Linked DNA regions of Homo sapiens: region 1 is reported to be linked to region 2. The links are microRNA targets in miRTarBase. Many come from high-throughput screens and were not tested one by one. Region 2 holds a microRNA gene; the other region holds the end of a gene's coding sequence.

Region 1 (7,127 bases), not on the chromosome of region 2:
ATTTTCAGGGATGGAAAGCTTGGAAGTCCAGTGCCCTGTGTAAATGGATTTGTGTGCCTGGTGTGCCGCACCAGCTACCTTCTGGCTGTATATGAACATCATATGTAAGTGAGAGAGACAGCCAAAGGGTAGCTGAAATGACTGTGAGTGATTCTCACTGCAAGCTCTACTGTCCAAACATAATTTTTTAAAAATTCAAATTCTGTTGGCAGTAGTTCAGAAGATAAGTAAATTCAGATTTTTCTCAGGACAGTTTGTGTCTGTATCAGCCTCTCTTAAATATTTAAACTGAGAATTAGTTATCTTGAATAAGCAGATAATTGTAAAGGATGATTTTCATCATTATCTGCTTATAAGGCATGTAAGAAGTTTATGTGTTCAATTGGTGGTAATGGTTTGATACTACTTGGAAAACACTTGTCTGGGAAGGTAATGTTCACTCGACCTGCCACTGCTTGGAATTGGGAGATCGTTTTAGTCAAATTGATTGGCAAAGTTAATCAACACCCCATGTGGCTTTTTCTTTGTTCACTATAAACAATTGGTCATTGGATTAGACCAGTTGACGAAAGTAGTGATTTTGCCCCTATATAGATGTTATTTTGTTATGCAATATTGATTTTTATTTTTCTATTAAAATATGCTCATGGTCCCTTCTTTTGCTTCTCCCCATTCATTGTCTCCTGCAGGATCAATATCAGTTTTCCTATCGTGCCGCACTAGAGTACCTGGGCAGCTTTGACCACTATGCAACGTAGAAACCCCTGACCCATTCTGGATTTTTACTACAGGCCCTTCAATATCCATGGAGTCTCTTCTGAGCCATACAGGGCACTTGAGAAGTCCTTCTTAACTTCTAGCTAACAACTACTTAGTGGGACTATTACACACAAAACAAATTAAAAACAAATTATTCCAGGTGGACCAAGAATTCACAGTTTAATAATCTAACCTGAAAAATAATGAAGAGAATCCTGACTGATGAGGCATCTGAAGGATTTTATTTACAGATACCTCAAGGATTCAAAATCAAGGGAAGAAGAAATCACAGCAAAGAACCACCATCTTATTCAGGATTGCTTGAAAGGTGCAAGGAGAAATTGCCAGAATGCTGCAGTTCAGCACAAGATATGTGCTGGTGTGGCTTCTCACAATGAAACGGACTCTGCTTTGACATCGCCCCTTCCCACCATACTGCTCATAATAACATTTTAGGGGGAAAGGGGAGGGAATGTTTAAAAAGAAAGTCCTTGATTTAGTTTTTTAGTATTGTAAAGATACTGCTGACCTGTGCTTCATTTCTAACTGTGTAAACTTTTTTTTAACAAAATGTATCATTCGATAAAGTGAATTTTAAAAAAGTTACATAACTCTTCATTTTTTTATTTCCAAATCGTAGGTTTTTTTAAGCTGTAGAACTGTTATCTGTAATATCTTGCTGTAGAAATATCAAATCATTTGAAAATTTGCACATTTTTGTGCAAAACTCAATCTACAGTATCAGTCTCGTCAGATATATTAATTTTACACTTCAGTTTTGATTGGTGAGAAAGTACCCATTCTCTTCAAATAATCAAAGATAATTATTATTTTGTTTTGTTTTTGGAATCAACAGGGAGGCGCAAAGTATAAAGTTGCTGCTAACATATATACATATATATCCATATTTTATAAGGGTGTCTATGTATATATAGACAGTGTGTCCACACAAAAAATAGATACAGTTATCAGTCAGTCAGTTCTTCCATGATTTAGTTTTTTTAAACGTAGAAAAGCTATTGTAAACATCTCTTTCCATTTATTCTTAATTTTTTGACATATTGGTATTTCTTTAAAGGGAAATGAGGAATGCACATCAGTGATTGATTGTCAAACCTCACCCCCTGATTTCCTACCTAATCTACCCCCACCTAACCAATCAATCACATCCACAAATTGTTTTGTTTGTTTGTTAGTCAGGCTTCCAACAAAGTTCAATATTTCTAACACTCTAGTGCAATAAAAATTATTATTAAATAGCTAAGAGGTGTGCATGTGGGAAAGGTCAGTGCATATCCCTTTAGGAGGGGAGAATGTTGTAATATATCAGCTATCGAGTTGTTTAAAAAAAGTGTATTCAATCGTATATTGTCTATAGTATGTGCTATGAAATTTGCATTTATGATATGTAACAGGGGCAAAGCCAAATTCATGTTACTCTGTTCAGTCAGAAACATTTTGTGGCATACAGCATTCCTGGGAAGTGCTGTACTTTGTTTCGTTTTGGTTTTAGTTTTGCATTTAGAGTGCCTTATAATTGATGCCTATTTTAATAGCATTTCTTTTTAGCTTTTGGTTCGTATTTCCATTCACTGTTCGTATCTGTTACTTTCTATTAAAGCATTATCTGTTTACCACATGTACAAAAACTCTTTGAATAATATGCATTCCTAGTTTTCAGCCAAGTCGGGGATGTTAGTGATTGTACCAGCCCAAAGCACTTGGATAATCAGGGCCCTTCTTCCTTTTATAATCAATCATCAACATCAGAAAAAGCTACTTGTTTTATTTATATTCCCTTCCAAATCCGCTCTGGAACATGCAGTAACTGCACCAAACTTATTTTAGTAACAAATATCATTGGCAACTTTGGAATATATTTGATATTCCATTAGGATTTTTCTAAAAGGGGAAATAAACTATATATATATATGTATCTTACCCCCAATTCTTCCAACAGAATTTCTATAGGAAGCCATGGATGATGGCATAAGTTTGCCACATATTACATGATTTTAAATAATCCTCAAAATACCCAAGGAACTCTTAAAGAGTTTTGGTATGAGTATACTACTTTGGTTTAATTTTAGCTTCATGGATGTTCTGCATGGAAGGATTTTTGTTTTCCACATTTTCCCATTGCTAGCAGAGTGAAATCCAAGAGACCAAACATTTGCAAGCATTGTATTTGAGCACTTTTGTAAAAAACAAAGAAAAAGAAAAAAAAGAAAATATATATAATACTAAAAAAAAGTATCTAGAAGGCTACCTCAGAATGAGACTCTCTAACCTACATCAGAACCAGAGAAGAATGTGCACTATGTGGGTCTGTTATCATTATTTTCTTTTAGTTTGTATCTTTTTGGAGATTTATCCAAGTGCCAGATTACTCAGTGCTATAATTTTCTTTTAGTTAAACAAAGGGGGTCAGACAGACATTGCATCATCCAGACATGCCTTGTTGGACATGTAGAATCCGATGGAGCACTGCACACCAGAATGATTGGCCAATGAGCAGCTTCTCTCCCTGAAACAATAACTGCCCATTTGGCAAAGGGAAAGATGACAATAATCAGAAGAAGAAAATGAATGGGATGCATACCATAGACGAACGAGGCGGAGACTATTGCGGGAATCTTACTGTTCAGGAGCTGTTCCTAGAACTAACTCCCTTACTGTCATTGATGTGCATTCCACTCTGTGCTTTTCTGTACAACCATTCAAGTTTTAATTTCCCAGGTGAACCATCTTTATCTGCCATTACCACAAGCTTTCAAGTTTCCAGTTATTTTCATCATCATAACCAGTACGGTGCTATTATTTACCTATGTACGTGTAGTTATGTATAATTTTGTAATTAGTTACAATGGTAAAAAAAATCAAAATATATAAAAAGTGATTTGTACAGAACTTTATTTTAGCTCTTTTTTAAAAATGATTTGCATGGTTAGAAAACGGCGAGGACAGCCAGGGGAGGGAAGGGCCTCTAGGGAACTTTGCACTTTCTATACCTTTGTACTATGCACTGCCCTATTGATTCTACACCCAATAATGATATTACTTGAACCCATCTGTAAGAAACTGCTTCGGAAATTCATTTGTGTGTATGTAAATAACACAACATAGAAACAGGAAGGGAAAAAAGTCTGCAGTAATGCACGTATTTTTTTTCTTTCCTGTTTATTTTCGGTTTTGCTTTAAGTCCTTTTATTTTTAATTCCCTTTTTGTTTTTCTTTTTGGGTTTTGGTTCCTTTTGGGTTTATGGGTGCCCTGATACTCCAGCAGAGATCAGAAGGCTACAGATCCATTCTATCCATCCGTTATGTGGCTTTGCCATCCCAGCTTGGAGTGTCTTTACAAAGATAATAACAGTTGTGTTCTTTGCTCTCGTTTTGGATGCATAGACTGAAAAATTAAAACAAATAACTTGTAAAATGGCTTGTTAAAAAATACAATTACCTCTAATTAGTAGTACGCGTAAATGTTTTACAGAATGAAAGGCGTGCTTTTTATTTTCTTACTTCGTTACATTGGTGGCGAAAGAAGTCTGTATGAAAATCAGTTCTTTGCTGACACAAGTTCCATTTGTTACAAATGAATTCTAATAAAAATGTCAGTGTTATGCAGCCCTGGCCTTTGCTTTTGTCCATGCAAACACTTTGGTTTTGAACTGACTATTTGTTCTCTCTTCTCTTCTGGTTATCTAGTTAGTTCCTTGTACTAGTAAGAATTCTGTTTACCGAGAGACTACTGTTTACAAATATCTACCTTGAGGTAAGCACTTTTCACTGGTAAGCAAACAGAGACTCAGAGAAATAGTTTTTCCAAGTTCACAGAACAAAGAGGCATTGCTTTCATTCATATCAGAGATCACAGGCAATCTTTGATTCTGTGGAAGATTACTATATAGAAATTTAAGTGCACAACTGTATATATACATCTATATGTATGTATGTATTTTCATCTCGAAACAACTTTCATGCACATAAAAATAGCTCCATAGTGTTAATTTATTCATACCTTTGGGAACATGGCTAAGAAAATACTTGGTTTGCGTTATTTATTCAGTAATTCAATATGATCAAGTACCAATAATGGGTCAGAATTGTTCTAGGTATTGGAAATGCAGCTCTGAACAAATGAGATACTGCTGCTGTTTGCATACAGACTACAGTCTACTGAGAGAGGTTGGCACTGAAGTAATAGTAACATCACATGGGACCAGTGCTATGAAGGAAAGTGTAGGATCCTTGAAGTTAGGACTTTCAATTGTGAGTGACAGAAAGTCTGACTCAAATTGGTCTACAGGAAAAGAAAGGCGTTTACTGACTCATGTACTAAAAGATTAGGAATGGACTCATTTACTAGAAGAGTAGGAATACATCATCTTCAGGCATAACTTGATTCAGGGCTCAGTGATGCCTTCAGGACGTGATGTCTCTTCCCATCATCCAGCCTGATTCTACTTTCACAGTTTCAATTTTAAACTCCCTTTTTGTAGTCCCTGGAAGCTTTGGGATCATAACACCACAGAGCAGACAAGTGGAAGAGTTTACTTCCCCCAACAACACAACCAAAAGTCCTAGAATGGAGTGAATTCTTCTTGATCCTAATTGAACCTGTCTTGGGGTAAGCGATGATCTCAGGAACACAAGTATGGACAGAAGGCGAGAATGTGTGCATTGAGTTATCAAATCCAGAAGGGTTTAAGGTGGCTGTCCCTTTGCCAAACCCCAGTGAATATTGTGGGACCAACAACTGGCTGCTGATCAGCCTAATTTGTTAACATAAGGCAAAGCACAGGTATGCTTGGTAATGTTAAAACTACTTGTTAGAAATGATGACAGAATAAAACAATTCCATTATCCAAACATTATTTTGGAAATCCTGTTATTGAATGAACAACCAGACTCCTCTTTTTCCACTTCACCTAATTGGCTTTTACTTTTGCAGATATGACCACCCTATTGATTGATTGTGTAAAAACAGGACAGAGACTTCGAAGTGTATCAGATTTGATATTTTGTTCCTTGTGATTCATAACTTTAAACAGATATCTGATAGAATACCAAGAATAACAAATATGATCTGATTGTATACATGTACACACACACACAGAATTAATAGTTAATAATAACTATAAGCTTGGGACTTTCACTTAATTGTATCCATAATTAAACTTTATGAGAATTTTAATTACAATAATTGGTAAAATTATGAATCTGAGAAATATTTAACTTTATAATGTTTAAAATAATTTCTGCAAATTCTGAGGAAATAGGCAAAGACCTGTGAAATCTTGTGTTTAATAATACAAAAAGACTTAAAATATGTAAAATTGTGTATGTGTAAAAATGTTTTACAGTTATATATACAATACATATATGTAATGTATATATTACATGTAATTTTACATATATTATTTTACATACACACCATAATGCCATTTATAATGCATTAGCATTTCACTATTAAATAGTGTTTTGGAAAAAAGATAGCTACATTAAAAATTATTATAATATACTTTTCAAGAAGGGATATAAAATTATGTACACATCTTAAAGCAAAGAAGTGACTGGAAAGAAATATAATTATTAAATGATACTGTGTGATAAAATTTTGTTGCTGCACTTCGTACATTTTCTAAAATTTTTACAATAAGTATTTCAAAATAGCAAATTGTGGGTGCTTTGAAATATGTGAGAAGATAGAATAATTTTTAAAAAATCAATTTACAAGGCAAGAATGAAGAGAAAAGAGAATCTAGGACAGGAGGGGGCAAATAGAAAGTAATATGGGAGATTTAAAATTTAAAACAGTAATTACTTCAAATGTAAATAAAGTATATTCAACTTAAAGATGCAGATTTTTAGCCTAGCTATATAATGCTTGTAAGAACATGAGGCTACTCAAAGTAAAAGGATGCAAAAGATATACCATGGAAACATAGCCAAAAGAAAGCTATACTGAGTTATATTAATATCAGCCATACCATTACCAAATAATAAAAGGGTCAGTTTCCGATGAAAAACTTCAATGCACCAGGAAGATGTGACAATTATATGTGTGTATGAACCTCATAACATGGCCTCAAAATGTAGACAACAAAAATAGAACTTAAAGGAGTTACATACATATCTACAGCTATCATGGGAGATTTTAAACGCTTCTCTTATTAACGTATAAAATGAACAAACCAAATAAAACTTCAGTAAGGGTATAAAAGATATGAACAAGCTGATTAACAAAATTTACCTAAGTGAGCTATGTAGACGACTAAATTCAATAACTTAAAAATATACATTATTTATAAAAGCATTTAAAACATTTACCTAAATTAACTAGAAATTGGACCATAAAGCAAGTC
Region 2 (7,127 bases):
GCTCTTGTCTGAGTCCTGGTTTCCCCGTGTCTGGTCGTTCACTTCACGACTCCAGATGGGAAAACAAAATTATTAAAGTTCCTACCCCATAGGATTATTGTTATAATAATTAAATAAGATAGTATAAGAACACTGCCTGACATACAGTGAGACTTGGTAGATAGTAACTATATCACCATTATTATCACCATCATCACTGAAAATGTGTGTCTGGGACTTACTCCCTAGGAAATGCCTGAAATAAAAATTATTCCACTGGCCCCTGAAGAAAGAAAACCAGGAAGCTCGCGTTGTTCAGCTGCCAAGCCTGTGCCAGGCAGTCTTCTGGGTACTTTATGGGAGTCACTCATCTGATCCTTGGAAAAAGTCCATTAGAATCAGAAGCACCAAGAGGCGAATTACCTTGCCAGGGTCCGACCACTGTCACTCAGCTGGGAGGGCTATGTATGGCCCTGGGTGGCAGTTTCAGTCCATACCAGCCCCTGTTTCCCACCCCATTGTCAGAGAAGGCTTGTCTAGTCCCACAAAGGCCATTTGTAGTTTATGTGTGCCCTTAGAGCTACTCCTCGAAGGAATATTATGCAGCTATAATATTATGCAGCTATGAAAAATAATGGTTGCTAGGACTGTGTAGCACGAAGAAAATGCTCATGGTATAACAGAAAGGATGCAGAATTATGTACTTATTATGATTACAACTCTAAAAACTCACAGATGAAGAAAATAAGTAGGGAATGTACAAGAATGATGATGGAATTGGGATGATGGAAGGGTCTGTGTTTTAACATTTTATAAAACAAAGGTTTAAAAAATAACAGCACCTTAAAAATTAATGACTGCTGAAGTAGGCCTGTGAGGACTCCCTACAGTACTCTAGGATCATATAGCCTTTGTGTTTACATTGAGGGTTTTTACAGGAAAGCCAAGGAGTCCTTCGGCCAAGGTCAAGGTTAACATAACTGATGATGTGAATCCTTTGTTTGAGGGTTCCTACCTTAGCTCACTCCCATCGTATTAGGAAGGGTGATGGGTACTTCTAGAATGCTTCACAATGGTCTGAAGTCTTTCTCTGCCTGATGGCCAGAGGTGGATATTATCTATGAAACTGTTTTGGAAAACCTGCAACCCAAACCATAGTTTTTGTGCCTAATAGGGCACATTGCAATAACTTTTGCATGAAATATCTTCCTTGCCTTTATAAAGGAATTTATTTCCCCAATTAAAAAACAATAACAACAATCTGCACCAAAATCAGCCAGTCTTTTGAGTTGAATCACTTCTCTCCATTCTCTCCCAAAACCTTAAAAAAATCCTCAGGGTACTGTCAGTAAACAATTGCTTATTACATCCCTATAACCCTACCCTGGTACACACACATGCCTTCAGTATAAAATGGATGTGTGTTCCTTCTGGGGAGTATTCACACTGCTTTCAGGAAGAGTTTGGGGAGAGACAGTAATTTTGTCTAAAATGCTCTGCTCACCACCGTCTCAGGTTGCCTGTTTTTAAAGGAGAATGGCTCATGGTCTTTGATGATGATTCTGGTACATTTCCACCTCAGGCTCTTAAAACTTAAGCATCACTTTTTGCCTGGGATCTCCCAGACATGCACCGTTGAATCTGCTGTTCACCTGGGGAGATGAGAATGTCAGTGAGCGCTGGTGCATGTGCTGACAGTATTGTTAATGGCGCCGTTTCCACATCTGCAGGCAGACTTGTGCTCCAAAGACAGTTATCGGAGTTGCTGCAAAAGTGACCACCCCCTGCAGCCGTAACCTTCAATACTGTGCCTAGTCTCGAGCTCAGTCAAACCTGGATGCCTTTTCTGCAGGCCTCTGTGTGATATGTTTGATATATTAGGTTGTTATTTAATCCAACTATATATCAAACATATTCCTACAGTGTCTTGCCCTGTCTCCGGGGGTTCCTAATAAAGTTTATAAGGCAACAGGAAAGAACACGTTAAAATCACAAGTAGATTTAGAAGATGGAGCACTCATTACAATTCATGTTATCTTCCATTTCTTCTTATAGCATTTGAGACCTGTATCAGTATTACTGGATTACTTGCTTATTATAGAAACAATAAGTGTTGATGTTTCATAAGAGCCTGGGGTATTCTGTGTGGCTTAGTTTTGTGCAGTGATGAATCCTTAAGGAATTCAATATGCTTGGTGGAAAAAACGGTTCCAACCCATGTCTGTGACACAGAATAAAGGTCAGGATTATAGCCTCAAACACATCTAGATTCATGTTTCATTTTGGTTCATTTTTATCCTGATCTTCAATTTAGAAGTTCATGTCAGGGTTTCAGCAAAAATTCAAGGAGCACAGATCAGTTTTCTATGACTTCCCTTTCCACTCACAGTAACAGAATGTATAAAGCAAATCCTCCATACCAGCTGCATGGATACTGAGTCAGTGAGCTTTGTACAAACCTTGGATATAGGACTAAATATATCTCATGAAGGTAATATAATGTTGACTGAACTCTTGAATTTCCTGTTATAGGTTAACTTGTCAGTGGAGGTTGGTAATATTTAGAATAAGCCAACAATCGGAAAGTAATATCATAGCCTAATTGACTGTGGCAGGAAGTTTGGGATTATGATATAGAAAACATTTTTTCTGGTACATAACAGCCTTCTTTGGTTGGTTTTGACCTCTTCCTTATAGAAAAGCCTGTGAAGTATGTGTGAGTTCATTCTGAGTTCTCTCAACAAACAAAATACTTTGTGAGCACTGCTTTCTGGAAAGAGAACTACTGTTCTCAATGTTTTGGAGGAGAAAAGGTGTAAGCAAATGGTTTAAACAGGTAGTCATGAAAGCTTCCCCTTACTGTGTCTAGAAGTCATTGCCACATTGCTTACAGGTGAATGCATAGTGACAGGGTCACCAACAGCAACATCAGAGAGGTGATGACACAGGAGAGGGTCCTGTAATGTTGGAGTCCTGGCTTCTGGAGTTACATAATGGATCCTGTCTCTGGAATCCTTCTCCATTGAGAAGCGATCTGTGTGTGTTGGCAGGTGCTCTGTCAGGCGGGTTTCAAGATGCTGCCCCAATCAGTCCCTCCTTCACACAGCTAGAGAACACCGGCTTTGGTTTTGAGTCCAGTTACATTGTTTGACTGAAATGGCAAATGGCCATGGAAAAGAGACAGCAAGTTATTACGAACAAAGAAAAACATGGTTTCAAAAGGACCTGCAGACGAAGCCCAGTTGTTTGAATTGATGTGATTTTCTTGTTTCTTTGGGTGACTTTGTCACTGACCAGCATGTTCTCTGTAGTGATTAATATGGTGAAGGGAAAAAGGAACCAACTGTTCAGGAAGGAGGAGGACAAATACAGCATTTTCTGTATGGCTGCACTTGGGCTTTGAGTGGCACTCATTGGTTCCAGACCAGGAGCATACAGGGTGTGAAAAGCAAGTATGGGGCCGGGCATGGTGGCTCACACCTGTAATCCCAGCAGTTTGGGAGGCCAAGGTGGGCGGATCATTTGAGGTCAGGAGTTCGAGACCAGCCTGACCAACAGCTGGGTTTCACCCAGTCTCTACTAAAAATACAATATATATATAAATATAAATATATATAAAAATATATTTTTATATATATTAAATATAATTATAATTATATATTATATAATATATTATATATTATAATATATATTATATATTATATTATAATATATATTATAATATATAATATATATAAATATATTATATATATATATATTTATATATATATATAATAAGTCAGGCATGGTGGTGCACGCCTGTAGTCCCAGCTACTCAGGAGGCTGAGAATCGATTGAACTTGGGAGGCGGAGGTTGCCGTGAGCCGGGATCGTGCCACTGCACTCCAGCCTGGGTGACAGAGTGAGACTCGGTCTCAAAAACATAAATAAATAAGAAAAGCAAGTATGGGAGACTCCCCTCCAGGGTAGACCAGTAGGTCCTTGTCAGATCCTTCACAGACACAGAAAGGGGGCTTAAGATGTAGGGAGTTTATCTGATACAGCTTGGGAAGAACCCTGTTATCTTTTGTCTGTGCTTTCTATATCGACATTCAAGGGCCCCTTAAACAGAAATAGTGATTAAAAGATTATTTCAGTGGCGTTGCTTTCCATTTTGAACACAAAAGTAAAGCAATGGATACTATGGGAAAACTACTCCCAAGATACTAATCATGCAGGTGCGGACCTTTTCCAGCAGACACTGCATGAACTCGCGCGTATTCCTCGGATGCGGAGGGTGTGGTCCCTCCCCAGTCACAGGCACAGCCATTTGGCAGTTTCTCTGCCACCCATTTTGCCTGTTTAAGGTCTCTCTGGAGCTTTCCCTGAGACAAGGCCAGCTGTCCATGCCTGGCTCTTAGCAGTTCCAGTTGTTCTGGGAGGTGTACCTTTTGTTTGAACTAATAAAGGTGGCAGTCCTGAAGCCACCCCATCCATGGGTCCTCCAGAGGAGAAGCTGATCTAACCTTTGCACAGTTTGGGGCTTTGCATACAGGCTAAGGCCTCCCTCAAGGCACCTCTCAGTTCAATACCAGAAGCAAACTAGTAGCAGCCAAACTTGCAACAACAAAAAAAAAAGAGAAATGTGGCTGCCTGCTCCACTCCGGCTTCCAACTGGCAGGAAAATGCCTCACTCCTGTTGTGGGAGTTCTAGACACTGGCCTCCTTTTTTCCCTCAAGGACATTTAAATTAAATGCAAAATGTTCACACTTTAAAAAATATATATCCAAGAGGGTTTTTTTAAAGTTTCTGATGCACTATGACCTTATTTTTAGTAGCAGGCATTCTGCAAGACTCTGAGTAACACAGAGCAAAGCCTGAGACCCCACTGGAAAGATGACACGGGTGGTTCTTCAGTTTGTGGAGCCAGTTGTGAGAAGGGCGACCATTGTGTTTTTAGCTCTCAACAAAGCATTCCCTCAAAGTAAGTTTTCAGGGAGGGAGGCAAGCCCTTTGGCCATCTCCTATGCATGCCTTATGCTCCTTCACCTTCAAGTTCATTGGCGGAAGGAGCTGTGGGGTTGCAGGGCATAAGAAAAGGCCAAGAAAAAGACCATGGGAGGACATTCTCTTCCCCTGCCCAACACTTGCCCAGGACCTGACAAGGACAGTGAGCAGGGGAAGTGGGTAAGGACGTTGAGGAGGAGCGGGGGCAGTGGGGGATGTTGGTAAGGATATTGAGGAGGAGGTCAAGAGAAATCAGAAGAGAAAAGGTAGTTCCTGCTTATTTTAGTCACCGCCTTCTAAGAGAAGTTTAATTTGGAACTGTCCATGTCTAGGCAAAAGGACCAGGAAGGTTGAGTTGCTCCTCCAGTGACAGAAAACTGAGTAACTGATACCTGGAGAAAGGGCAGCGAAGACTCCACAGTCACATAGTCAAAGTACAGAACAGTGACTACCACCCGGATTGTCCCACTCCTGGTTGGGTGCTGAGAGAGGAGCTGGTGCCCATCTATGCTGTTTGGTACCTGACGCTTACTGATTTGTGGGTTTTACTTATAATGAATTTAGGCTGTAATCAGAAATAGCAAGAAGAATTTTTATTGGAATTATGGATACATAACAGGGTTTAGACAGAGAAACAGATTAATTTAGCCCCAAACCTGAAAAAAACAATTTTTGATAATGAAATTGCTAATAGTTTTTGAGCATCTCCTATGAGTCAGCCATGCTTTACATATACTAATCACGTGCTTGTAATGACTCCATCAGATAGGTTAGGAGGGGAAGTAGGCTTAGAAGATGAATGAATTAGTGTGAAGACCATGTTCTCAGAATCCATGAAAGGCCAAATGTCAAAAGAAACATGAGGAAAGGCTGTCCCTTTTACCTTCTCCACTTTCCACACCACTTCCCCTACCACCACCATTTCCTCTTCCAGGGGACATATAGCTACTGAAACTTTAAACCCATCAGAGCAACATAAAGGGGTCCCAAATACTCTCCCAACTGGGAAACAGGGGAAGGGAGCCAACCCAATATATAGCCTTTCCCAAGAGGGATCTCACCAGACCACTGACTTTTTAAAGGGTGAGCAAGGAAGGTCAGCATGCAGGGAAGAGGTCAACTACAGGGTACTCAGACCTTTCTAGAAGCTACCAAAAAGCCCAGGTAGGGATAAATCTGTCCTCAGCAAGAGTTGGCCAGACAGCCCAGGAAAGACGATTGCTTAGAGCTGATGGGCACCTGGCCAAATAGCCTTTTCAAATGAAGGGGAAGGGGGAAAAGAACAGTATATCAAAGGAGAAGTTAATTCAGCATGCAGAGGCAGCAACAAACACCTTCATTAGGCAGAGTAGAAGCTTAGTTTGTACATCTGTTCACTCTTTTTCCCAGTGCTGTCTTGTTACATAAGAGTGCCTCTTGGTAAAATGCCACTGTGTTTACATTTGTATGTCCATGCATGACTAAATGTCACAAACTGTGAATTCCAGTTGAAGGCTGCAAGTAGAGTGTACAATTAACAACTCAAGGCCTCAAACAGGGCAGGAACTTGCTCATAGCTGTGTATGCATCTGTCCACCAGGGCTCAGGAGTGGATGCTAATGATGTGGATGCTTACTCTGTGTATTTCTCCTTCTCCTACCTTGTGCGTTGTGCTCTGGCTGAACTCTGGAACTTGGGAAATGCATTTTGAATGGATATATTCATTCAGCAAATGTTGATCATCACATGGGCTCCTCTGCCTGATTTTGTGCTAGAGAAACATAGGTTGAATAAAACACAGTCTCACCCTGGAGGGGATCACAGGCTGGTAGGTTTAAGTTAAATGGTGTTTGTTTTCCTGAGTCCAGGCCAGCATTTCCTACAGAGTAGTGTGTAACCACCTCTGTAAGAAATACAGATTCCTGACTCCCACCCCAGACCTACCAAAACAGCATCTGCATCTTTAACCAGATCCTCAGGTGATTCTGCAGTGAGGGCTATCCATTTATTTATTTATTTATTTATTTTTCTTTAAAATTTTTTTCTGTTTGGTTTTTGAGGGTACATAGTAGGTATATATATATAATATATATTATATTATATATATATAATACATGAGATGTGTTGTTACAGGCATTGTATTAGCTTGTTCTCACACAACTAATATAGACATACCCAGGAC

The links. Region 2 holds the annotated microRNA hsa-miR-190a-3p (CUAUAUAUCAAACAUAUUCCU, at 1,878-1,898, shown strand). A microRNA usually pairs through its seed, bases 2 to 8, with sites in the 3' UTR of a target mRNA and lowers its output. Matches are read on the target gene's strand: a 7mer-m8 pairs with bases 2 to 8, a 7mer-A1 pairs with bases 2 to 7 and ends in A, and an 8mer does both.
Region 1: miRTarBase lists PTPRD as a target of hsa-miR-190a-3p. Seed matches in the 3' UTR shown: 7mer-m8 at 1,646-1,652, 7mer-m8 at 1,654-1,660, 7mer-m8 at 1,687-1,693, 7mer-m8 at 2,681-2,687, 7mer-m8 at 2,683-2,689, 7mer-m8 at 2,685-2,691 and 3 more.

The regions. Positions count from the first base shown.
Region 1 is chr9:8,311,505-8,318,631 of GRCh38, reverse strand. PTPRD (protein tyrosine phosphatase receptor type D) reads left to right here. Exons shown (of 46, transcript NM_002839.4): 46 at 690-4,386. The coding sequence ends at 758. Among named protein-coding and RNA genes, the nearest start is that of DMAC1, 520 kb to the right of the region's middle.
Region 2 is chr15:62,822,131-62,829,257 of GRCh38, forward strand. MIR190A (microRNA 190a) reads left to right here and starts at 1,827; the gene lies at 1,827-1,911. All of the region lies in intron 54 of TLN2 (talin 2), which reads left to right.